Linked DNA regions of Homo sapiens. Changing the gene in region 1 together with any one later gene gives a genetic interaction. Each region holds a gene or a part of one and is shown in the gene's direction. Other genes may lie near its edges.

Evidence for each region.
Region 2: changes in FDPS (region 1) and BOD1L1 together harm fitness more than expected from each alone (negative genetic interaction), as found in Homo sapiens cells (one large-scale study listed by BioGRID).
Region 3: changes in FDPS (region 1) and RINT1 together harm fitness more than expected from each alone (negative genetic interaction), as found in Homo sapiens cells (one large-scale study listed by BioGRID).
Region 4: changes in FDPS (region 1) and RRM1 together harm fitness more than expected from each alone (negative genetic interaction), as found in Homo sapiens cells (one large-scale study listed by BioGRID).
Region 5: changes in FDPS (region 1) and EMC7 together harm fitness more than expected from each alone (negative genetic interaction), as found in Homo sapiens cells (one large-scale study listed by BioGRID).
Region 6: changes in FDPS (region 1) and BNIP1 together harm fitness more than expected from each alone (negative genetic interaction), as found in Homo sapiens cells (one large-scale study listed by BioGRID).
Region 7: changes in FDPS (region 1) and ARIH1 together harm fitness more than expected from each alone (negative genetic interaction), as found in Homo sapiens cells (one large-scale study listed by BioGRID).

Annotation. Positions count from the first base shown.
Region 1 is NC_000001.11:155,311,866-155,315,365, forward strand, and holds part of FDPS (farnesyl pyrophosphate synthase), read left to right. Parts: intron 1-389; coding exon 390-530; intron 531-3,500. UniProt on the Homo sapiens protein: Key enzyme in isoprenoid biosynthesis which catalyzes the formation of farnesyl diphosphate (FPP), a precursor for several classes of essential metabolites including sterols, dolichols, carotenoids, and ubiquinones.
Region 2 is NC_000004.12:13,603,726-13,607,225, reverse strand, and holds part of BOD1L1 (biorientation of chromosomes in cell division protein 1-like 1), read left to right. Parts: intron 1-36; coding exon 37-109; intron 110-2,141; coding exon 2,142-3,500. UniProt on the Homo sapiens protein: Component of the fork protection machinery required to protect stalled/damaged replication forks from uncontrolled DNA2-dependent resection.
Region 3 is NC_000007.14:105,542,201-105,545,700, forward strand, and holds part of RINT1 (RAD50-interacting protein 1), read left to right. Parts: intron 1-207; coding exon 208-449; intron 450-3,500. UniProt on the Homo sapiens protein: Involved in regulation of membrane traffic between the Golgi and the endoplasmic reticulum (ER); the function is proposed to depend on its association in the NRZ complex which is believed to play a role in SNARE assembly at the ER.
Region 4 is NC_000011.10:4,097,799-4,101,298, forward strand, and holds part of RRM1 (ribonucleoside-diphosphate reductase large subunit), read left to right. Parts: intron 1-3,500. UniProt on the Homo sapiens protein: Provides the precursors necessary for DNA synthesis. Catalyzes the biosynthesis of deoxyribonucleotides from the corresponding ribonucleotides.
Region 5 is NC_000015.10:34,091,863-34,095,362, reverse strand, and holds part of EMC7 (endoplasmic reticulum membrane protein complex subunit 7 precursor), read left to right. Parts: intron 1-3,500. UniProt on the Homo sapiens protein: Part of the endoplasmic reticulum membrane protein complex (EMC) that enables the energy-independent insertion into endoplasmic reticulum membranes of newly synthesized membrane proteins.
Region 6 is NC_000005.10:173,158,031-173,161,530, forward strand, and holds part of BNIP1 (vesicle transport protein SEC20), read left to right. Parts: intron 1-713; coding exon 714-815; intron 816-1,902; coding exon 1,903-2,021; intron 2,022-3,500. UniProt on the Homo sapiens protein: As part of a SNARE complex may be involved in endoplasmic reticulum membranes fusion and be required for the maintenance of endoplasmic reticulum organization. Also plays a role in apoptosis.
Region 7 is NC_000015.10:72,599,830-72,603,329, forward strand, and holds the end of ARIH1 (E3 ubiquitin-protein ligase ARIH1), read left to right. Parts: 3' UTR 1-3,158; downstream 3,159-3,500. UniProt on the Homo sapiens protein: E3 ubiquitin-protein ligase, which catalyzes ubiquitination of target proteins together with ubiquitin-conjugating enzyme E2 UBE2L3.

The DNA of each region.
Region 1 (3,500 bases):
GAGAGGCTGAGCCAGGAGAATTTCATGAACCCGGAGACAGAGGTTGCAGTGAGCCAAGATCGTGCCACTGCACTCCAGCCTGGGTAACAGAGAGAGAATTCATCTCAAAAAAATAAATAAATAAATAAATAAATAAAAACAAAAAATAAATTTACTAGGGTAGACCATGCAGAAAGAATGTGCCTGGGTACTGGGACCTCTTCTAGCTTTGCTCCAGAAATTTGGGGAAGGAGTAAAGACAGTAGCAATTCCAGAGGCTCCTTGAAGAGGAGTTGGGGTTGGGGAGGATAAAGTTAGGTGGTGGTTGGAAATGGGAGAGAGCAAGGAGAAAACTCACAGTAGCTGCTGTATGGACCCTGATACCCTGTACCTCTTTCCTTGCCCTCCAGGTCCTGGAGTACAATGCCATTGGAGGCAAGTATAACCGGGGTTTGACGGTGGTAGTAGCATTCCGGGAGCTGGTGGAGCCAAGGAAACAGGATGCTGATAGTCTCCAGCGGGCCTGGACTGTGGGCTGGTGTGTGGAACTGGTGAGAGGGGTAGGGCAAGGGAGAAGAAGTTTCCTGCAATGGTGGTGACTTGGGTGGGAAGGGGAGGGATGGGCCTGAAACTTATTTCTGGGTTGTGTTTGTGTTTCTTTGTCTCTAGTGTGCTACGGCCAAATTTAGAGTGAATCACTCCAAGGGTTAACTAATGTGGGGAGCCTCTTTTGGCATTAGGTATGAAGATGGCTGTAGATAGTTGTAGACAGTGTGGACTGGGGCCTCGAGACTGGGCAGAGAGGTGTCAGCTCTTTCCTCTGAGCAGAGGATGGCTATAAAAGTGACAGAGGAGGCCGGGCATGGTGGCTGACACCTGCAATCCCAGCACTTTGGGAGGCCAAGGGGGAGGATCATCTGAGTTCTGGAGTTCGAGACCAGCCTGACCAACATGGAGAAACCCCATCTCTACTCAAAATACAAAGTTAGCTGGATGTGGTGGCACATGCCTGTAATCCCAGCTACTCGGGAGGCTGAGGCAGGAGAATCGCTTGAACCTGGGAGGCAGAGGTTGCGATGAGCTGAGATTGCACCATTGCACTCCAGCCTGGGCAACAACAGCGAAACTCCATCTCAAAAAAAAAAAAAAAAAAAAAGGTGACAGAGGTCTTCCAAAGGCTATTCAGAAGCAGAAATTGAAAACTGGCAGCTCACTGACAGTATTTTGAAAATGTTTTACAATTAAGTCTCCTAAATTTAACAAAGAGATTTCACACTAAAACCTAGATTTCTAGCATGGCTTGGGAAATTGTAAGATTTGGGTCCATGTTCCCGCATAGCAACAATTGGCTGAAGCTGAGTGGATGCAACTTCTGCAAGACGGCATGTGTTCTCCTGTGTGCTTTCTCTAGTTTGCTCCAATCCCCACATCCCCTTGTCTTCTATACCAGTTCGTCTTGGTCTTGAAGGTGTCTAGTTTGCTGGCATGGCCTAAAGCTTTCATTAGTGGCAGGGGGACTGGGTTCTGGGAGGGGTGCCATGCCCGAGGAGGGTGGCAGTGAGCCCAAAAGGGAAGAGCATTCAGAACTTGGTGAGTGACGATGATGCTGAGTGCCTGGCCTGAGAGGAGCAGCTGGCTCAAGGGAAGACGTGCTGAGCACAGTCAGCCCGGGTACGTTCTTGGTATGGGTGGAGCAGGTGGATCTGCCTGTCCTGTGGGCGGTGGAAATTCCAGTCTGGAACTTGTCGGGGAGATGGGTCTGGAGAATAGAGATTTGCTTCCAAGGAGGTAATAGGCCCATGGCATCCAGGGAGAGGGCCCTGGATGACAGGGATGCTGAGGGGCTGAGGGGTTCAAAATATGGAGATGACAGGCAAGGAAGGAAGGGAAGGAGGATGAGGGCAGAGCAGAGGAGTAAAGCTATGGGGGCCAAGGGAAGCAAGACCTTGAGGGGCCAGTGGTTAACTGGTAGAATCAGTTCATTTTTTTTTTGAGATGGAGTCTCTCTCTGTTGCCCAGGCTGGAGTGCAGTGGCACCATCTTGGCTCACTGCAACCTCTGCCTCCCAGGTTCAAGCAATTCTCCTGCCTCAGTCTCCTAAGTAGCTGGGATTATAGGCACATGCCACCATCCCTGGCTAATTTTTGTATTTTTAGTAGAGACGGGGTTTCACCATATTGGTCAGGCTGGTCTGGAACTCCTGACCTTGTGATCCATCTGCCTCGCCCTCCTAAAGCGCTGGGATTACAGGCGTTACAGGTGTGAGCCACTGCACCTGGCCTAGAATCAGTTCTTAACCCTAGCAGCACCCTAGTTTCACCTGTAAGTTTTTAAAAATTTTTAATTTTTTTTTTTTTTTGATACAGGGTCTTACTCTGTTACCCAGGCTGGAGTGCAGTGGCATGATCTTGGCTCACTGCAATCTCTGCCTCTGGAGCGGAAGCCACCCTTCCACCGCCTCAGCCTCCCAAGTAGCTGAGACTACAGGAGCGAGCCTCTACTTGGCTTTTTTTTTTTAGAGACTAGGTTTCACCATGTTGCTGAGGCTGGTCTTGAACTTGTGGCATCGAGTGATCTGCCCATCTCGGCCTCCTAAAGTGTTGGGATTACAGGCGTGAGCCACCACGCCTGGTCTAAATTTTTTTTTAGAGACAAAGCCTCATTCTGTTGCCCAGGCTTGAGTGTAGTGGTGCAATCATGGTGTACTGTAGCCTCGACCTCCTGGGCTCAAGCGATCCTTCCACCTCAGCCTCCCAAGTAGCTGAGACTACAGGTGCCTACCACCACGCCCGGCTTTTTAAATAGTTTTTTGGTAGAGATGGAGTGTCACTATGTTGCCCAGGCTGGTCTTGAACTCCCGGGCTCAAGTGATCTGCCTGCCTCGGCCTCCCAGAGTACTGGGATAACAGGTGTGAGCCACTGTGCCTGGCCTGGGTTTTTTTTTTTTTTTTAATTTCCCTAATAAATAGAAAGTGCTGGTGGGGTTAAGAATCAGTGCTAGGAGGCAGAGGAAATTTGGGGAGGCCATGGAATTAATTATCTTGGAGACCATCATGGTTGAGTGGTGGTGGCTGAAACAAGATTGTCCTTGCAGTCACCCTTGGGAGAGGCAGTGAATGGGTGGCTTCAGGGAAACCATGCTACTCCAAATAAACACAGAGTCAATTAAACATGTGCCTTTGATGTGGAAAGCCCAGGACCTCCACACTACTCTTCTGAGTTTAGGTCAGAGGTAAAGATGCAGATGGATGCCTCCTTCCCTGAGGACCCTGCCTATAACAGCAGTGATTGCAACGGTCCTTTCCCCACGGCCCATGCTGGGCTCTGGCAGGCGGTGTTGCATGCTTCCTTTGCAATGTGGATCCACTACAGCACACAGGATTAGGATGGGATAAAGTCTTAAAAACCATGTCTTCTAGGCCAAGTGTAGTGGCTCATGCCTGTAATCCCAGCACTTTGGGAGGCTGAGGCAGGTGGATCACCTGAGGTCAGGAGTTCGAGACCAGCCTGACCAACATGGG
Region 2 (3,500 bases), on another chromosome or scaffold:
TGATTCATGCTTTATATTTGACTCTTTCCCCCTTAGGAATGTTGAAGAGAACTCCAAAAAGAAACAGCAATATGAAGAAGATTCCAAAGAAACCCTTAAAACAAGTGAGGTATGCCTTAATAAAACCTCATTTCAAATGCTGTTTTGTTAGATATAGGCTGTTTATTCCTTTGGAGTAAAACTTAGAATGTAATTTGACTTTTTTCAAGTCAAATAAAAAGTCAACTTACATTCAGCATTTTTGAAACCCCATTTTGTTATGTCCCAAATTGCCCATTTTGTTGAGTTGATTTATATATTTGTCGTTTATCTAGGTAATAGCTACTCTTCTTCTCTTTTCCCATTTCTTATAATTGCAATAACAAAAATGCCAGTAATGACAAAAAAAGAAAAAGGGAGGCTAAAATTAAAATCTAAAATCCCTCCACTATAACAAATTATCCTTTTTATTCCCTCTCATTCCTTATCCACGGGTCCACATAATTTTTTAGAGTACAAGTAATCTGGCAAACTGTTTTTAACATTTTACTCATTTCATGTTACCTTCTAGGCATCCTAATTATTTAATGATTGTCTAGTGTTACATATAATGTACATACCATAATTTATTTAAGCATGTCCTTATATTTTAGCGCTTAGGTTGTTTCCAAGATTTGATCATTTTAAACAGTAAAAGTAACGTACAATGTTTTCTTCCCCCTTTCAGGATTATTTTCGTGGGACAAACTTTTGCTTTCACTGTTTTAAAATTCTTTTTTACAAAAACCACATTATCTGTAGTTCTGTAGCTAAACTATCTTAATATTTCCAGAGGGAAAAAGCAATGTTAGTGATTATTTGTTCATCATCAGCAAACATAAATTTAATTTATTTACTCAGAAATTAAAGGCGTATTTAGAAGTATATAGTGATGGCTTAATGACATATTTTTAAATATTTAACTTTCTTTTATGATAATTCTCTATAAGAAATTATCTCATAAAATAGTATTCACATTGCTTAGAATTAGTTTTTTATTGTGAAGTTGATGCAAACTCCTGTTAGTTCTTTGAGGAATTTTATTTTAAGCTATTTAATAAGGTCTTGTTATGTCCTGGACCCTGTTATTAGTAGAAGTACATTAATCTTTGTGTTGACATTTAAGGAGATGAAGTGTTAAACTGACCTAGAGGCACAAAGGTCCGTCTGAACTTTGGCCCATTATTTGCATAAGAATAATTATAGCTAGTAGTCAGTGAGTATTATTGAAGTGGATTTAGTCAACCTCCACTCATTAATATTAATCGCCTACTTAGTGCCAAACCACAGGGCCAGAAGGAAGGTTTAGATGCTCTTGTCTCTCCGTATCTTTTTTTGAATACATAAACATATACATATGTTATATATGATATGGTTACTGTGCGTTATTGTGTACATTTGAAGCTTCATGTGTAGAATATTGTACAAGTAGCCTAAATTCATGAGGTTTCCATACATAATTCAGCTTTTTAAATTAAAATATAGGAAATCTATATTTCAGTATATTTCAATTTTAAATTGCCTTCATGTATTATGTTTTTGACTGAAAAGGACATTTGACTGTCATTTATTCAGCTCATATTTATTATTGAGTACTGGGCATTAGTGAGTTCTAGTGATTCAGAATTGAAGAATTCATAGACAAATCAGTGCCTGTGATATACTGGAAGGAGTACTAGACTCGGAATGAAATAATCTAAACTCATTCCTAACACACCTACTTGTGGTCTGAGTGTCAAGTTATAGAATCATGCTGAGCTACAATTTCCTGATGTTTTAATGGCATATTTTTAAGTATTTAACTTTATTTTGTGATAAATCTCTATGAGAAATAATCTCATAAAATTGTTCATATTGTTTAGAATTAGTTTTTTTATTGTAAAATATGGTTGTTGCAAACTCCTGTTAGTTCTTTGAAGAATTTAGCTTCTTAAAATCAAGTTAATAATACTTATTTTTTAAAATCAGGTGAGTTTTTGACACCTACACAGGCTGTTTGTAAGAATTAAGTGAGATGTTACATATGTGACAGCACTCAACATATTAAATCCACCCAAATGTTATGTTTTAATCTAAAAATTGATTTTGGTATTTCTCATATTTTAACCTTTGTTTTCTTTCAGCATTGTGAAAAGGAAAAAATTTCTTCTTCAAAGGAGCTGAAGCATGTTCATGCAAAAAGTGAACCAAGTAAACCTGCCCGGAGACTTTCAGAGTCTTTGCATGTAGTTGACGAAAACAAAAATGAATCCAAATTAGAAAGAGAACATAAAAGACGGACATCTACCCCTGTTATCATGGAGGGGGTACAGGAAGAGACTGACACAAGAGATGTAAAAAGGCAAGTAGAACGCTCAGAAATTTGCACCGAAGAGCCCCAGAAACAGAAAAGCACACTTAAAAACGAAAAGCATCTAAAGAAAGATGATTCTGAAACACCACATTTGAAAAGCCTACTTAAGAAAGAGGTGAAATCCTCCAAGGAGAAGCCTGAAAGAGAGAAAACTCCATCGGAAGACAAATTGTCTGTGAAACATAAATATAAAGGTGATTGTATGCATAAAACAGGTGATGAGACTGAGCTTCACTCTTCTGAGAAAGGTTTAAAAGTAGAGGAAAATATTCAAAAGCAAAGTCAACAAACAAAGCTTTCTTCAGATGATAAAACCGAACGAAAAAGTAAACATAGGAATGAAAGGAAATTATCAGTATTAGGCAAAGATGGAAAGCCAGTTTCTGAATATATTATAAAAACAGATGAGAATGTTCGTAAAGAAAACAACAAAAAAGAGAGACGCTTGTCAGCTGAAAAAACTAAGGCAGAGCACAAATCAAGAAGGTCAAGTGATTCTAAAATTCAGAAAGATTCTCTGGGTTCCAAGCAACATGGTATCACATTACAGAGAAGAAGTGAAAGTTATTCGGAAGATAAGTGTGATATGGACTCCACTAACATGGATAGTAATTTGAAACCAGAAGAGGTTGTTCACAAGGAGAAACGACGAACAAAGAGCTTGTTAGAAGAGAAACTTGTGTTGAAGTCTAAATCAAAAACTCAAGGCAAACAGGTAAAAGTTGTAGAAACAGAATTACAAGAAGGTGCCACAAAACAGGCAACCACTCCAAAACCAGACAAGGAGAAGAACACAGAAGAAAATGACTCAGAAAAACAGCGTAAGTCTAAAGTTGAAGACAAACCTTTTGAAGAAACTGGTGTTGAACCTGTATTAGAGACTGCTTCTTCTTCAGCACATAGTACACAGAAGGATTCTAGTCATAGAGCCAAGTTACCATTAGCAAAGGAGAAATATAAGAGTGATAAAGACTCCACTTCCACCAGGCTTGAGAGAAAGTTGTCAGATGGCCACAAAAGCAGAAGCTTAAAGCATAGTAGTAAAGACATAAAAAAGAAGGACGAAAATAAATCAGATGACAAGGATGGTAAAGAAGTTGACAGTAGTCATGAAAAGGCCAGAGGTAAT
Region 3 (3,500 bases), on another chromosome or scaffold:
GGTGCATATGTGTAGTCCCAACTACTGGGGAGGTTGAGGTGGGAGGATTGGTTGAGCCCAGGAAGTCCAGGCTGCAGTGAGCTATGATGGTACCACTGCACTCCAGCCTGGGCAACAGCGTGAGATCCCCTCTCAAAAAAAAAATTATGAAAATTTTATCTGATTGCTGCTGTTCTTTCTTTCTTTCTTTTTTAAAATTATGGTCAGGTACTTACAATTTCATCAGAAATTCCTAAAAGAATTCGAAGTGCCTTAAAAAATGCAGAAGAATCAAAGCAATTTCTTAATCAGTTTCTGGAGCAGGAAACTCATCTCTTCAGCGCCATTAACAGCCATTTGCTGACTGCGCAACCTTGGATGGACGATCTTGGAACCATGATTAGCCAGATTGAAGAGATCGAACGTCATCTTGCTTACCTTAAATGGATTTCACAAATTGAAGAACTAAGGTAAAATGGGCCTCTTTGTTCTCACAATTACTATTTTCCTTTGAGGCTTCTGTCTTAGAGAGTACATGTGTGCCATTAAATAATTGAGTTAATTAAAGATTATAATAATATAATTTTACCAGTTGTTGTGAAAATAGCATTATGATAATGATTCTTTTCCTTTATTGTGAGTGAACATAAGCTTTTCAGGGAGCTTAATTAGCATTTGAAAGAAGGTAATGTAAGTACGTTAAACTTTTAAGTTTTTTTTTTTTGAGATGGAGTCTCGCTCTGTCGCCCAGCTGGAGTGCAGTGGTGCCATCTCGGCTCACTGCAAGCTACACCTCCCGGGTTCATGCCATTCTCCTGCCTCAGCCTCCCGAGTAGCTGGGACTACAGGCGCCCGCCACCATGCCTGGCTAATTTTTTTTTTTGGTATTTTTAGTAGAGACGGGGTTTCACCATGTTAGCCAGGATGGTCTCGATCTCTTGACCTCACTGTCCGCCAGCCTCGGCCGCTGGAAGTGCTGGGATTACAGGCATGAGCTACCGCGTCCGGCCAAACTTTTAAGTCTTACAGTTGGATTATGAACACATGATAAAAACTATTCTTTGTAATGCCAAATTAATAAAACACAAAGTTTGGTAATAGTTATTCTTATTTAATTTTTAGAACTGGTCAGTTAATGAAATGGATTGCTTTTGTATAATTTGAATATTTTTCAGTGGGAATCATAAGAGCTACACAGTATTCTTGGATGAATAACAAGAGTTCTGCTACCTCTGGGTAGGAAAAACAAAAAAGGAAGTAAGGCTTGACCTTAGTTCTTTTTGAGTTGAATACCTATCACTGGTAGTTAATTGTATCTAGCTTTGCCTTTCAGACAACCCAAAGTAACATTTCCACCTAGATTAGTAGATGATAAGGTCCCCACTATCCTTGCATTGTTTTAACTAGTACTTGCTGCAGAGCTGTCAGCAACCATTAATTTTGCCTGGAAAACCTGAGGGAGAAAAGTCTTCTGGGAGTCTTAATGTCCTGTTTCAAATGTATCATAGTTAATAAACCTGATATTACTTTTGTTATGGATATGTTTTATGTATTTCTTTTTCTTGCATATATTTCCCAAAATTTTAAAGAATTTTACATATCAATATAATATAGAAATCTTTGTTTTTAGGCCAGGTGCAGTGGCTCACACCTGTAATCCCAGCACTTTGGGAGGCCGAGGCGGGCAGATCACGAGGTCAGGAGTTTGAGACCAGCCTGACCAACATGGTGAAACCCCGTCTCTACTAAAAATACAAAAAAAAAAAAGAAATTAGCCAGGCATGGTGGCGCGTGCCTGTAATCCCAGCTACTTGGGAGGCTGAGGCAGGGGAATTGCTTGGACTCGGGAGGCAGAGGTTGCAGTGAGCTGAGGTTGTGCCATTGCACTGCAGCCTAGGCAGCAAGAGCGAAACTCCGTCTCAAAAAAAAAACAAAAAAAACAAAAAAACTTTGTTTTGCATGTATGAGGAGTTTTACATATAAAGTGGTTTAGAACATCTCATTCTTGTTTAGATAAATTATTTGCAGTGAAGGAATTTTAAACCTTGCTTTATTTTACTGCATTTCTCCTTGTCCCTCAGAAAGGAAATATCAGTAAGGGGCAATGTTAATAACTTTATTAAGTAAAATACGTTATTTGAAAACCTCACTCTTGTAGTAGCCAAAGTAATAGATTAACTAAATTAGGTCCATGGTTATTGATAAACTTTTCTTTTTTCTTCTTTTTTTTAACATTTATTTTATTTATTTTAATTTTCTTTTTATTTTTTTTTGAGTTGGAATCTTCCTCTGTTGCCCAGGCTGGAGTGCAGTGGCACAATCTCAGCTCACTGCAACCTCCACCTCCCGGGTTCAAGCGATTCTCCTGCCTTGGCCTCCCGAGTAGCTAGGACTACAGGTGTATGCCACCACGCCCAGCTAATTTTTGTATTTTTAGTAGAGATAGGGTTTCACTATGTTGGCTAGGCTGGTCTTGAACTCCTGACCTCAAGTCATCTGCCTGCCTTGGCCTCCCAAAGTGCTGGGATTACAGGTGTGAGCCACTGCACCTGGCCTTGATAAACTCTTCAGATATCTGAATTGTTTATAAGGGAAATATGCCGAGGGATTTATATTAGAAATAGGGATCAAATTCATAAGCAGGTAGAGCACAGTTATTTTTCTGTCTTTAATAATGTGTTATTTCCCTGAGGTCTTTTATGATAATCTCTCCATTTCCAGCTTTCCTTTAGAGCTTCTGGGATTTTCTTCATCTCTAAATTTTTTTATAATGGCCTATTTTTATTCTGATGTACATTGTCTTTTTTTCAAGTAGTTTCTTCTTGCTAGAATTAGCATCCTTACATTAGCTCTGTTTCTTGGATACTATAGTATAGCACTATCACTCTGAGTGAACCTTGTTTCTCTAGCTTTTCCTATGTTGTAAATGTCATTCATACTTTAGTGTTGTGAGGAAATCTATTTCATTCCTTCCTTAAAAGCAGTACTCCTGCCGGGCATGGTGGCTCATGCCGTAGTCCTAGCACTTTGAGAGGCTGAGGTGGGCAGATCGCTTGAGCTCTGAATTCTGTGACCAGTCTGGGCAACATGGCAAAACCCCATCTCTGTTTAAAAAAAAAAAAATCAGCCAGGCTTGGTGGTGAGCACCCATAGTCCCAGCTACTCGGGAGGCTGAGGTAGGAGGATCGCTTGAGCCCCGAGAGGTTAAGATTGCAATGAGCCGTGATTGTACCACTGCACTGCAGCCTAGGTGACAGAGTGAGACTCTTTTAAAAAAAAAAAAAAGGCAGTACTCATATTCTGTTTGTACATTTGAAATTCTTCTGTAATATTTGTATATATATATATATATTTTTTTTTTTTTGAGATGGAGTCTTACTCTGTTGCTGAGGCTGGAGTGCAGCGGCACCCTGTCAGCTCACTGCAACCTCTGTCTTCTGGGTTCAAGCAATTCTCCTGCCTCAGCCTCCTGAGTAGCTGGGATTACAGGTGCCCATGACCACGCCTGGCTAGTTTTTATA
Region 4 (3,500 bases), on another chromosome or scaffold:
TTTGAAGTACCTACTGAATATGCTAATGTCTTGCTAAACACTGTGAGGGCAGTAATGGAGAAGGCAGCTCTATCTTCAAAGAACTTAAAATTGTTAGGGATTTAGGAACAATCCATATGAAAATTATTAGATAGAAGAGAATAGTAGATGAGTTTTTTTCATCTGCTATCTTGAGCTATTTTTCCTAATGGGAGAGTATCATTCCTCAAGGAGATTATGGTTAAAAAAATAAACATTGAGAACCATTGCAGTAAATGACAAAGTAGCTAACTGAGTTGTAAACTGTTTTGGAATTTAGTGTAGTATTTTCAAAACTTTGGATTGTAACTCACAGTAAAAAACAAAACATTTTACAGACATGTGTATATATGTGGATACACATAAAATGATACAAAAGTTTACGAAATAATGTCTTTGAAAGCATCCATTTGCACTCTAATCTTTCTTTTATTCCAGATTCTTTCCCTATCCCTGCCTCCCTCCCTCCCTTCCTTCCTCCCTTTCTTCCTCCCTCCCTTCCTTCCCTCCCTCCTTGCTTCCTTCCTTCCTTTCTCCCTCCCTTCTTTCCTGCCCTCCTCCCTCCCTCCCCTCCCTCTCCCCCTCCCTCCGTCCCTTCCTCCTTCCTTCCTTCCTTCCTTCCTATTCCATTCACAGCCTGCTAATATTATTTTACAACTCTGTGGATACCGTGCTGTTCACCGGGATTGCAGTGATGAGTAGGCAGACATGGTTCCAGCTTCCAAAGATCCTACAATCAATTGAGAAAGATAGACAAATAAAGAAGTAATATGATAAAATATGATAAATACTCTGATAGGTAAAGTATAGGCAGTAGAGGCCATTCATTCAGTTATTCATAAAGCATTTATTCAGCACCTCTTTGTGCTAGGAACCGTTGTAGGCATTAGAGATTCTGCAGTGAACAAAGCTAAATTACATTTCTCATTGAGTTGACTTCTTGGTGTGGGTGGGAGTGGTAAGTGTATATAAGAAATAAGAAGTAAACATAATAATCAGTTAATTTCAGATACTGATTAATGAGATGATAGTAAAACAGGATCATGTGATAAAGATGAATGAGAAAATAACCTTGGATTGGGTAGCCAGGAAAGGCTTCTCTGAGAAGCCAACATTTGAGCTGAACCCTAAATAGTATTAAGAGCTAGTAATGTGAGATCTGTGGCCTGAACATTCTCGGCAGAGGGAATTAGAAAGTTTGTATCCTGTGGAAAAGGCACGCATCCTTGGTCTTACAGGATTAGGGAAGTCTTCCTGAAGAGAGAAGAATGAAAGACAGTTTATAGCCAAGAGGAAATCACACTAGTATGCTAGAGGATTTTTTAATTTTATTTTTTATTTTTTGAGACGGAGTCTTGCTCTGTTGCCCAGGCTGGAGTGCAGTGGTGTGATCTTGGCTTACTGCAACCTCTGCTTCCCAGGTTCAGGCAATTCTGCCTCAGCCTCCCGAGTAGCTGGGATTACAGCATACCCAGCTAATTTTTTTTTTTTTTTTTTTGTATTTTTAGTAGAGATGGGGTTTCACCATATTGGCTAGACTGGTCTCGAACTCCTGACCTCAGGTGATCCGCCTGCTTTGGCCTCCCAAAGTGCTAGGAATACAGGCTGAGCCACCATGCCCTGCTGGCTAGAGGATTTTAAAAGAGGAAAAGGTCAGTGTGAGTTAAAAGTGGTTGAGGCAGGTTTTATGGAGGTGTGAGATTTGGAGGGTGAGTAGGAGTTAGATGTATGGAAAGGTGGAAGAGGAACCTTTAGGCAGAGTAAGGTATAAGCAATGATGTGGATATGGGAATGGGAAGCCCTCTTGGGACTTATATTTCACAGGGAACAGTTGAAGAGATCTGGGGCCAAACTAAGAAAGGCTTTGCTTGAGAGAAGAGGATAATGTAGGCAGTGAGAAGCAGGGATTAGTGATGTGATAAAATCAACATCTGGCTTGAAAAACTAACCAAGTGGAATGACAGAATAGAGAACTGTGTGTCATTGGACCTTTAGATCTTTAGTCTGCCTCCTATTTTCAAGTGTGAGTTAAGATAATTACCAATGCACTTTTTTTTTTTTGTCAGTTTCCTGATTGACTTCAGAACTTCTGGCAGTTGTAGAATTTTCTTTTTGCTAAGTTGCTTTCCCCCCCCACTGCATGTATAATTGCAGAACGCTAATGTTGCTTTGCAGTTACCTGCCTGCTTAGTTATCCAATTGCTAGAGCACTGAGGTTTCAGTCCCAGTGCCAGCCAGTTAATTTACCCCATTTCAGAGTTAAATGCTGCAGATGTGAGCCTGATGAGAAAATTATCACAATGGTGATCAGAAAGAGAGGGGCTAACATATCAGTGTAGAAGAAAAAGCAACTTGTTCTAGTGATAATGGGTTAATAGTGATGTCTTATTGTTCATTTATTCTTCATCAAATGTTTGAGAACTTGCCTTGTTCTAGGCACTAAATTTGAGAATACAGATGTGAATCAGAGGGCCAAATAAATGTAAACATATTTAGCATGTTTCTTATTGGTTACTTCAGGTTGAGTATCCCTTATTCAAAATGCTTGGGCCCAGAAGTGTTTCGGATTTTGGATTTGTTTCAGATTTTGGAATATTCGCATTATACTTACTGGTTGGGCATCCCTAATCAGAAAATCCAAAATCTGAAATGGTCCAAGGAACATTTTCTTTGAACATTGTGTTGGCATTGAAAAAGTTTTGGATTTTGGAGTGTTTTGGATTTTGGAATTTTGGATTAAGGATACTCAGCCTATAGTTACAATGGATTGTAGGTGCACAAAAGAGACAAAAACTAAATCAGTGTGAGACACTAACATTTATTGAGTGCCTATTGTGTATCACATACTGTGATTTTTTTTTCCCCCATAGGAGCAGCTTTATTTTATAACGAGGTATAGTTGTAACTATGCCAAAGTTGTTACAACAAAAGCACTTTTTACCTTATCTAATTTTATTGTCACAGTAAACTGATTAGGCAAGTAAAATAGATATAATAATTAACCCCTTTCTACAAATGAAGATCTGTGAAATGACTGATTGTGTTTTGTGGCTTGTCTAAGGTTAAGGCTGTTTGGTGGTTGGATATATTCACTATTCCTGGTAAGAATAAATAAAGGTCGGATGAGCTACTATTTGAGGTTAAACTAAGAGTAGTAAGACTTTTTTGTCTAGAAGGACAAAGATATAATCTAAGTCCAAAATCATGAAAAATATTAGGTAAAATATATAGTATGTCAGATGGGGTAAGTGCAATGGAGAAAAAGCACAGAAGGGGAAGGGGGATAAGAAGAGCAAGGGTCCTATTTGGGGCATTGCAATTTAAAATGGAATCATCAGGGAAAGCCACATTGAGAAGGTGATGACATTGAGCAAAAGACCTAAAGGAGATATATAGCAAGAAGGCCAAGTTGTCAAGGTACAATAGGAAGGAAGGTGGGAGAGTTGGAGGTGAAATTGGGAAGTGGGTGCACAGGACAAGTG
Region 5 (3,500 bases), on another chromosome or scaffold:
GCAAAACCTATTTGAAGTTGAAACATTTGTATAGTATCTATAGTCTTCAGAGTCAGCTTCCCATTATAATAGAACACATTTATTTATTTATTTTGTTGTCTCATGGCAATAGCATCCTCTTTGGTCAAATCTGACCAGGAAATATATGAAGCAACTCCTAAGTGGTAATGTCTCTTCTTTAAGCTATCAAATATGACTATGTTGCAGTAATAAAGCACAGGTCATGCAAAGGCAAAAACAATTTCTGGAGGTGGAGGACTAATAAATAATTTTACTACTGATCTTTTTGGTGTCTGCGCAGCATATTTAGACTGACTTGTAGAGACTCAAAATTGAGCTGACACATGTTCAGTTAGTACCATACTATTTACATTTGAGTTAGTGTTTACTCCTAAAATTTGTAATTTGTTTCTTCTTTCTTTGCTTTCTTTGACATTGAAAGTTTTAAAAATGTAATATGTAAATATGCCATAATTCAAATAGAATGAGTCACACATGGAGTTGTCCCATCCTTTATCTTAGCTGCGTGTTAGTCCATTGGTGGATTTGACATCATTTATATAACCGGCTCCTATTGATAGACAAGCAGTGATTTCTTTCTCTTCTTTTAGCATGTATACTAAACAGAGACAGTTATCAAGAGAATATTCTTTTTTTTTTTGAGACAAAGTCTTGCTCTGTTGCCCAAGCTAGAGTGCAGTGGCGCAATCTTGGCTCATTGCATCCTCTGCCTCCCAGGTTCAAGGGATTCTCGTACCTCAGCCTCCCAAGTAGTTGGGATTACAGCTGCACGCCACCATGCCTGTCTGATTTTTTGTTTGTTTGTTTGAGATGGAGTCTCGCTCTGTCACCCAGGCTAGAATGCAGTGGTGTGATTTCGGCTCACTGCAACCTCTGCCTCCTGGGTTCAAGCAATTCTTCTGCCTCAGCCTCCTAAGTAGCTGGGACTACAGGCACCTACCACCAACGCCCGGCTAATTTTTGTATTTTTAGTAGAGACGGGATTTCACCATATTGGCCAGGCTGGTCTCGAACTCCTGACCTTGTGATCTGCCCGCCTCCCAAAGTCCTGGGATTACAGGTGTGAGCCACGGCACCTGGCTTGATTTTTTTATTTTTTTGTAGAGATGGGGTTTCGCCATGTTGGCCAGGCTGGTCTCAAACTCCTGACCTCAAGTGATCTGCCCACTTTGGCCTCCCAAAGTGCTGGGATTACAGATGTGAGCCACTGCACCTGTCCAAGAGAATATTCTTGATATTATCAGGAAAGTAATACTCTAATGCCACTAATATATTCTTAAAAACAAATTACTTTTCCCCCCTACTTTGTAGAGAGACAAAATCTTGCTATGTTGCCTAGGCTGGAGTGTAGTGGTTTTTCTCAGGTGCAATCATAGCCCGCTACAGCCTCAAATTGACCTTTAGTGATCTTCCCACCTCAGCCTCCTAAGTAGCTGGGATTATAGGCATGACTGTACCACTGCACTCCAGCCTGGGCAACAAAGCAAGATCCTGTCTCAAAAAAAAAAAAAAAAAAAATATATATATATATATATGTGTGTGTGTGTGTGTGTGTGTGTATACATATATGTGTATATGTAAAGTTCTTTTATATTAAATCTGTGCCTTAAAGGACTTATTCATGACTTTTTGTATATTTTAGAATTGTAAGCTTGGAAATGGAGGGGTACGTGGATCACAGTATATGTTATATATACTGCTTTAAACATTTTTTTTATATTGAAAACACAATATTGGACGGAATGAGAGCTGCTACACAAAAGGGAATACTTGTATTTTTTTTTAATCCTTTTTACTCTGGTTAAATTTTGAATAAAATAGTCTTAGCAAATAGGAATATTGTTTTAAATATAGACGGTCCCCAGCTTACAATGGTTCAACTTATAATTTTTTTTTTTTTTTTAATTTGAGACAGTCTCGCTCTGTCACCAGGCTGGAGTGCAGTGGCGTGATCTCGGCTCACTGCAACCTCCGCCTCCCGGGTTCAAGCGATTCCCCTGCCTCAGCCTCCTGAGTAGCTGGGACTACAGGCATGCGCCACCACTCCCAACTAATTTTGCATTTTTAATAGAGGCAGGGTCTCACCATGTTGGCCAGGATGGTTTCGATCTCTTGACATCATGATCCTCCTGCCTCGGCCTCCCAAAGTACTGGGATTACAGGTGTGAGCCACTGTGCCCAGCCCTCAACTTAGAATTTTTTGACTTTACCATGGTGCGAAAGCGATACACAGTAGAAACCATACTTTAAGTACCCATAACAACCATTCTTTTTTTTATGCTTAGTACAGAATTTAGTAAGTTACATGAATTAAATAAGTTTCTTATTATAAAGTGGGCTTTGTATTAGGTGATTTTGCCACTGTTGGCTAATGTAAGTATTCTGAGCACTTTTAAGGTAGGCTAAGCTAGGCTATGTTGTTCTGTGAGTTAGCTGTATTAAATGCATTTTTGACTTACAGTATTTTTCAATCTATAATGGGCTTATTGGAATGTAAATTGAGGAGCAACTGTATAAAGTTTTCATTGCCTTTTTACCTTGAGTAAAGAGTACTTCCTGCTTTAGCACTTATGAACTGGTTGCAGCAGTGGGATTCATGTTCTCAGATACATTCCTGATGATTGGATGTCTGAAGCATAGGTTAAATTAAAAAAAAGAAAAAATTATTTAAAAATTATTTTAATAATTAGGGATGGGGCTGGGCACGGTGGCTCACACCTGTAATCCCAGCACTTTGGGAGGCCGAGGCAGGTGAATCACGAGGTCAGGAGTTCAAGACCAGCCTGACCAACATGATGAACCCCATCTCTACTAAAAATACAAAAATTAGCTGGACATGGTGGCGTGCGCCTGTAATTCCAGCTACTCAGGAGGCTGAGGCAGGAGAATCACTTGAACCCGGGAGGCAAAGGTTGCAGTGAGCCGAGATTGCGCCACTACACTTCAGCCTGGGCTTCAGAGCAATATTTCGTCTCAAAAAAATAAAAAATAATTGGGGGTGTGACAGAGTAGAGAACAAAGTGGGATTCATATAAGATCCTAATTCTTTGTGTGTGTGTGTGTGTGTGTGTGTGTGTGTGACGGAGTCTCACTCTGTCACCCAGGCTGGATTGCAGTGGTGCACCCTCAGCTCACTACAATCTCCACTTCCTGGGTTCGAGTGATTCTCCTGCCTCAGCCTCCCAAGTAGCTGGGATTACAGGCATGTGCCACCATGCCTGGCTAATTTTTGTATTTTTAGTGGAGACAGGTTTTACCATGTTGGCCAGGCTGGTCTCAAACTCCTGACCTCAAATGATCCACCCACCTTGGCCTCCCAAAGTGCTGAGATTACAGGCATTAGCCACTGTGCCCAGCCTTGACCAATATTTTATAAGCATGCAGCATGCATGATAAATTAGTTTTGAATATATGTGGGATTTTCAGTTCTGACATTTTGGCAGAGAAATGCTGGATAAAAATATGACGAACATTTTCTT
Region 6 (3,500 bases), on another chromosome or scaffold:
ATCTTCGCTCCTCCGCCTCCTGGGTAGCTGGAACCACAGGCATGCGCCACCACCATGCCTGGCTAATTTTTTGTATTTTTAGTAGAGACGGGGTTTCTCCATGTTGCCCAGGCTGGTCTTGAACTCCTGGGCTCAAGTGATCCCCCCACCTCGGCCTCCTAAAGTGCTATGATTACAGGTGTGAACCACTGTGCCTGGCCACGATTTTTTATTTCCTACAAAGTATATTAACTCAGCAGCTGAAGGGCCAGAAATGGTTGTTCAAGATACTGGAGATGAGTAAGTCATGGTTCTCCGGGGATGGTACCAATTAATACACAGGCCATAGCAGTACAGCCTTAGAGGCAACTGGACTGAAGAGGGGCCTTGTGTGACCAGCTGGGAAGTTTGGATGCCTCCCTGAAGTCCAGCCATTGTGGAGCTGTGCACAGAGGAGTGCCATGTTCACAGCCCCTTGGGCTGACGGGGGCAGAGTGACAGCAACAGAGCCTCCCCGTGGCGACCTCCAGGGTCCGGTCAAGGGGTATCAGGACCTGAGCAAGAACAGTTGCTGGGGAACCAGGAGGCGGAAGTGGCAGGAGGTGGGATGGGCTCTGAAGGCCGTGCCTGGTGGCCTTCTCCCGTGTGCCTTTGTTGGGGGGAAGTGCTGTGAATTGAACTGACTTATGGCTTGGTGGAGTGGACACACTCACACGTGAACCTTCCAATTCCAGCAATCAGGCCTCATGGAGGAAAGCTAATCTCACCTGCAAAATTGCAATCGACAATCTAGAGAAAGCAGAACTTCTTCAGGGAGGAGATCTCTTAAGGCAAAGGTACCTATTCTTTTATTTTTCTGGGCTCCGATAATAATAGATAACAATTGGCAAGGTGTAGGAAACCCCCTCTTGTTTTCAGCTTGGTGCTTAATTTAATTACATAAGTAATTTTTTTAAGTTTGAAAAAAATGCATACTTATTTGTAGTAAATTGGTAAAATAAAGTATGAATTACAAAATTAAAATATTGAATTTTTTTTTTTTTCTGAGATGAAGTCTCACTCTTGTAGCCCAGGCTGGAGTGCAGTGGTGCCCTCTTGGCTCACCGCAACCTCCGCCTCCTGGGTTCAAGTGATTCTCCTGCCTCAGCCTCCAAAGTATCTGGGATTACAGTTGCGTGCCACTGCACCCAGCTAATTTTTTGTATTTTTAGTAGAGACGGGGTTTAACCACGTTGGCCAGGCTGGTCTTGAACTCCTGACTTCTGGTGATCCACCCACCCCAGCCTCCCAAAGTGCTAGGATTATAGGCGTGAGCCACCATGCCCGGCCGAAAATATCAAATCTTATTACTCATGAACATTTTGGTATATTCTCTCCCTCATTTTTATTTCTACATTTCTTACAAAGTCAAAATTGTACCATACATAAAATTTCATATTCTGCTGTTTCAGCACAAAAGTTGTTCATTAAAAAAAAAAAAAAAGCTTTTTAAGCCTAATTCTAACAGTACATAGTATGTAGATTGTATGTTAATACAATTCCCTGTGTGTGTTTGCATTTCTAGTGTTTAAGTAGTGTAAGTAATACACCAGGGCATGTCTTAGAACATAAGGCTTTATCCACATTTTGGATGTTTCCTTTGGAGGGATTTCCAGGGATGAGATGATTGAGTCAAAGGAATGAACATTACCAAGGCTCTTCAATTGGCAAATTGCTTTACAGAAGGCAGCACTGGTTTATGTTCCTACTAGCAGTCCACAGGGGCGTGGGTCTCAGCACACCCTTTCCAGCATTGAATGTGATCATTTAAAATATGTATACTAATTGGATAGGTAAAACATGAGATCTCATTTGGATGTGGGGCCTTCTTGCAGGGAGGCTTTTGTTGACATTCCTCCCCTTTCTCTTCCTCTGAACTTTTAGGAAAACCACCAAAGAGAGCCTGGCCCAGACATCCAGTACCATCACTGAGAGCCTCATGGGGATCAGCAGGATGATGGCCCAGCAGGTCCAGCAGAGCGAGGAGGCCATGCAGTCTCTAGGTAAAGCTGGGCCTGGAGTAGGAAGCTTCTCCCAGAGACGCTGCTCTAGGGCCCTTGCCCTGGCACCTCCACTCTGGGCTCCTCCACCACAGCCCACACGATGTTCACTGACTTGGGTGGCTTCTCCCTCATGAGATGACTTGACACCATGGTCTTATCCAGTGTGGGATGTGCTGCTCCTATTTCTCTTTTTTTTTTTTGAGATGGAGTTTCGCTCTTGTTGCCCAGGTTGGAGTGCAATGGTGCGATCTCAGCTCACCGCAACCTCTGCCTCCTGGTTTCAAGCGATTCTCCTGCCTTAGCCTCCCAAGTAGCTGGGATTACCGGCCTGCACCACCACACCCGGCTAATTTTGTATTTTTAGTAGAGACGGGGTTTCTCCATGTTGGTCAGGCTGGTCTTGAACTCCCAACCTCAGGTGATCCGCCTGCCTCAGCCTCCCAAAGTGCTGGGATTATAGGCGTGAGATGCCACGCCCGGCCCGTATTTCTGTTTACTAGAAGACCCCACACCCCCATCGATGTTTCCTCAGGGGGAGCATTCCCATGTGTTCATGTGAAAGGCAGAGGTCCCAGCCCCTCTCCTAGAGAGGGTGTCGGCAGGGCTGGGTGAGGGGCCTGGAGTCTGATTTTCAGTGAGGGCTCTGGGGACCCATATGGCCAGGCAAGTTTGGGAATGGTTGCTCCAAGAGATGTTTGGCGAATCAGCTGCTGGTAGGACTGCTAGGACCTCAGTTTACAATTATACTCCCCAACGTTATTTTTCCTATGAGTTCCTTTTAAAAGATGTGAATCAGAGGCTACAGGAGAGACTGCTTGAGACCATCTGGTTTCCTCCAATAGTTTTCCCAGAGTGTCTCCTCTGTGATGGAGAAGAGTATCAGCCCTCTCCAGGGTCCTTCAGTATAAGACAACAGAAAAAGGGCGTTTACTCCTTGAAACGCTTTTGGAAAATTGCACACGTGGACAAAAGGAGAAAGCATGGTATCCTGAATCCCCTGAGCCCTGAGTCCATTACCCCAGCCAGTCTCGTTTCAGTTCTACCCTCAGCCCATCCCCCATCTGGATTATTTTGAAGCAAATCCCAGACATCATCCATAAATATCTCAGTACATCTCTCTAAAAGATAAGGGACTCTTTGGGGAAAAAGCAGAAGCAACCCCATAACTACAATACCATGATCACCCCTAGAAATTATAATTTTGGACCACTGTTTTTTCAGTGCACCAAATAGGCAGAAGCAAAAGGAAAGCAAGCAGGTGACCCCAAGGTCACTCCTTGAGTTTGCAGCTTACCTGAACATCTGGGCTCGGAACCAGCCAGGGGCTTCCTCTCAGCGTGTGCTGTGGGAGAGGCCTTGGAGAGAGAGGGAGCAAGGCGACAACTTGGCCTCTGAGCCCAGGGCTTTTATGCTCTGGTGTGGCGACAGCATACCCCCCGCTAACAGTGGGAAGGAAACACAAATGCTGGTGGCTTCTGG
Region 7 (3,500 bases), on another chromosome or scaffold:
AATGCAGTATTATGCCTTTGTCCACATTCACCATTGATTGCTATTGAGTATATCTGTAGCATCAAGAATAGGCATACTGAAAATCCTCCATGAAGTCCAGTGAAGCTTCATATTATTTTGAAGTGATATTTCCCAGTGTTGGCTGGACTCTCAAGCGTTTGTGGTATAGGTTTTGGGAGGACTGGACACTTCCAAAGAGAAATAAGATGTTACAGACTTGTCCAGCAGGTGGCATCAGAACAAAGCTGGCTATGGACCTTGTCAGTACAAATGATAAAACATTAAAAATGTAAAAACTCAACTGTAGCTCCTTGTTTATACATATATTGGGGGTGTTGAAAAGTTACCGATGCCTGATTCCTCTTCTATGTCCTCAGCCCCCACCATAAAAATAGATAAATGCCATTTTTTTTGTATGCCCAGCACAGCTATATGATTTGAATAATCTTGATAAGCAGGGTCACATTTGAGGAGATTTGCTAAGGGAAATGAAGATCCATCTGTGACACAAGAAACATGTTCTATGTGATTTCTGGGATTTTCCTGTGAACATACTTCTTGTTTGTTTGTTTTACAGTGGATCTCACTCTGTCACCCAGGCTGGAGTTCAGTGGTGCAATCATAGCTCACTGCAACCTTGAGCTCCTGGGCTCAGGAGAGCCTCTCTCCTCAGTCTCCCAAGTAGCTAGGACTACAGACACATGCCATCATGCCAGGCTCATTTTAAAATTTTTTGTAGAGACGGGTCTCACTATGTTGCTCAGGCTGGTATTGAACTCCTGGGCTCAAGCAATCCTCCTGCCTCAGCATCTCAAAGTGTTGGGATTACAGGTGTGAACCATAGTATCCAACCTATTATGTTTTTTTAAAAAGAGATTGTTCTAATTATGTATATAATTAAAGTACATTAGGTTTAGTGATTGCAATTTGAGAAACCAATGTCCTTTCTTATTGAAAAAGGCCCTGGTACAGAAAGTGTTCTATCTTCCTCACAAGATCTGAGGTCAAAGGAGAGATTTTGAAACATTATAGCAATGGCTTCTAGTTATTGAATAAAGAATGTCATTTGCTCCTCACAGGACCCCTTTCAGGGAGATTTCACATATTGGGAAACAGCCTCATGAGCTTTCTACAAACATCTTTGTCCTTAAGTCTTCCCATTTCAGTAATTGGCTGTACCACTCATCCAGCAGCTTTCAAAGTAAGAAACCTGGCAATCTTCCTTTAACATCCATTTCCCTTTCCCTCATTCCCCCATATCCAATCATGTGTATTGGAGGTTTTTCCACCTCTAAACTTGAGAACCCATTTACTTTTTCTCCATCTCCTTTGCCATCACACTAGTCCAAGTGAAGTGTTTCATCATCTCATTTGCAGCATCCTTTAGTTTACCCTAGATTATCAATTTTTGTCCCCCTCCCAATTCAGTCTCTACTCATGAGCTAACATGAGTTTATTAAGTGTTCATTCTGACCATGCCATTCCTTGCTCAAAATTCTCTAGTGCCTTCCCAATGCCCTTAAAATAAAATTCCTCATATGGCCTTTGTGGATCTGCACTCCTACCTCTTCTCCTATTGCAACCAACCCTGTTACCTTTTTCTCTTTTCACACTGGTCTTCATTCTGTGCTGCAAACTGGCTGAGATTCTTCCATCCTCAGGGCCTTTGCACAAGTTCTTCCTTTGCCTTAGAATTCTTTCCTGGCCTGCACATGTCTTCATCCCCTTTCCCTAAGCTAATGCCTTACCCTTTAGGTCTCATTTTAAACATCTCTTACCCAGGAAAAATTTCCCTGTCCAAACAAGTCTAGATTGGCTCCCCATTGTTTGTTCTAACTGTTCTATATTTCTCCTTCTTAGCATTTATCACAATTCTTGGTATGTTGTGCTTTTCACTTTCTTAGTCGCTATTATTGGAGTAGGTAATACATCCATATAGTACAAAATTCAAAATGTATTAAAGGTATAGAGTAAAAAGTCTTCTCTTCCCTGTCCCCCCGCTACCCAGTTCTCCTCTTTAGAACCACTTTTAGCATTTTGAATATCCTTCCAGAAATATTTTCTAAGTATACAAGCAATTATGTATATAATATTCCTCTTTATTTTTGCCTTTTTATTAATACAGATACTATATGCATTTTCTGCACTTTATCTGTTAATAATATATCTTGGCAATTATTCAATATTAATATGTAAATAGTTGCCTCTTTCTTTTTCATGCGCCATATAATATGGACTTATAATTTATTTAACCTCTATCTAGGTTGGTTTTAGGCATTGGTTATTACAAATAATGCTGCATTGAATACCTTTGTATGTAAAGTCATTTCCCACATCTATGCCTATAGAATAAATTACTAGAATTGAAATAATTCAGTTAAAGATTATGTGCATTTTTAATTTTGGTAGTTATTGCCAAACTGCTCTCAATGGAAGTTTTATGAATTCCCACTAGTGAATGCATTTGTCCTCACAATTATGTCAGTGAAATTTTTGTTCTTTGCCAATGCAAGAAATGGAAAGTATCTCTTGGAAACTAATTTGCATGTTTTTTTTCCTTGCACAGTTATATTTTCATATGTTAAAGAGCCATTTGTATTTCTTGGTGAATTGTTCATAAACTTTGCTTACTTATTATCTAATGTCTGACTAATTTGCTACACTCTAAATTCCCAATTCATACTTAAGTCTCGCCCTTGCAATTTAGATGTACAATCTGCCTCTTCAGTGGTTTCCACACCAAAAAATCCACAGGCTCCTGAATTTTATATGGGCCTAAGAGTCTTACTGAAAATTGGAAGTCTTAAGGTGTAGTCTATTTTATGCAGTGTGAGGCCTTTCATGCTCTGAAATGTACCACTCTTGACTGACTTTTTCTTCTTCACCCTGTCCGGCACTGTGCCCTTATTAGCCAGAGAAATGTTCCCCCTTTCTCCCAGGAAACGTTCTGACCTTACCCTGGTCCCTCAAGGACTCTCCTTCTCCCCCAAATTAACTTTCAAGGAGTTTCTCCAACCCAAAATGGCACCCTTCCTGAAAAGATTTCTAGTGGATACTGTTTTCTGTACCTCACTACGGATGTATTTTGCTGCTTGGCTCCCCGTCTCCATTTTGCTATGGCAAACATTTTTTTCCAGAAATATATCAGATAAAATGAACATGTGGTCCCTTTTGTTGATTTTTGTTGGGATCCATGGTATTGATTTCTTCTAGTTTAGATAATTCCACCGTGGCAAGCTTTTATTCCTAGCATAGCGCTCATGAGGAGAATGTTAGTCACTTGGTGTTATTAATGCTAAAATAGTAAACAAGAACACAAAATTTGCTAGATTAGAAGTGGATTTTTTTTCCAGGCTGGGCACAGTGGCTCATGCCTGTAATCCCAGCAGTTTGGGAGGCTGAGGCAGGCAGATTGCTTTGAGCTCACGAATTCGAGACCAGCCTGGGCAACATGGAGAAACCCCGTCTGTACTGGGGCTAATTTTACCAAAAAAACTAGC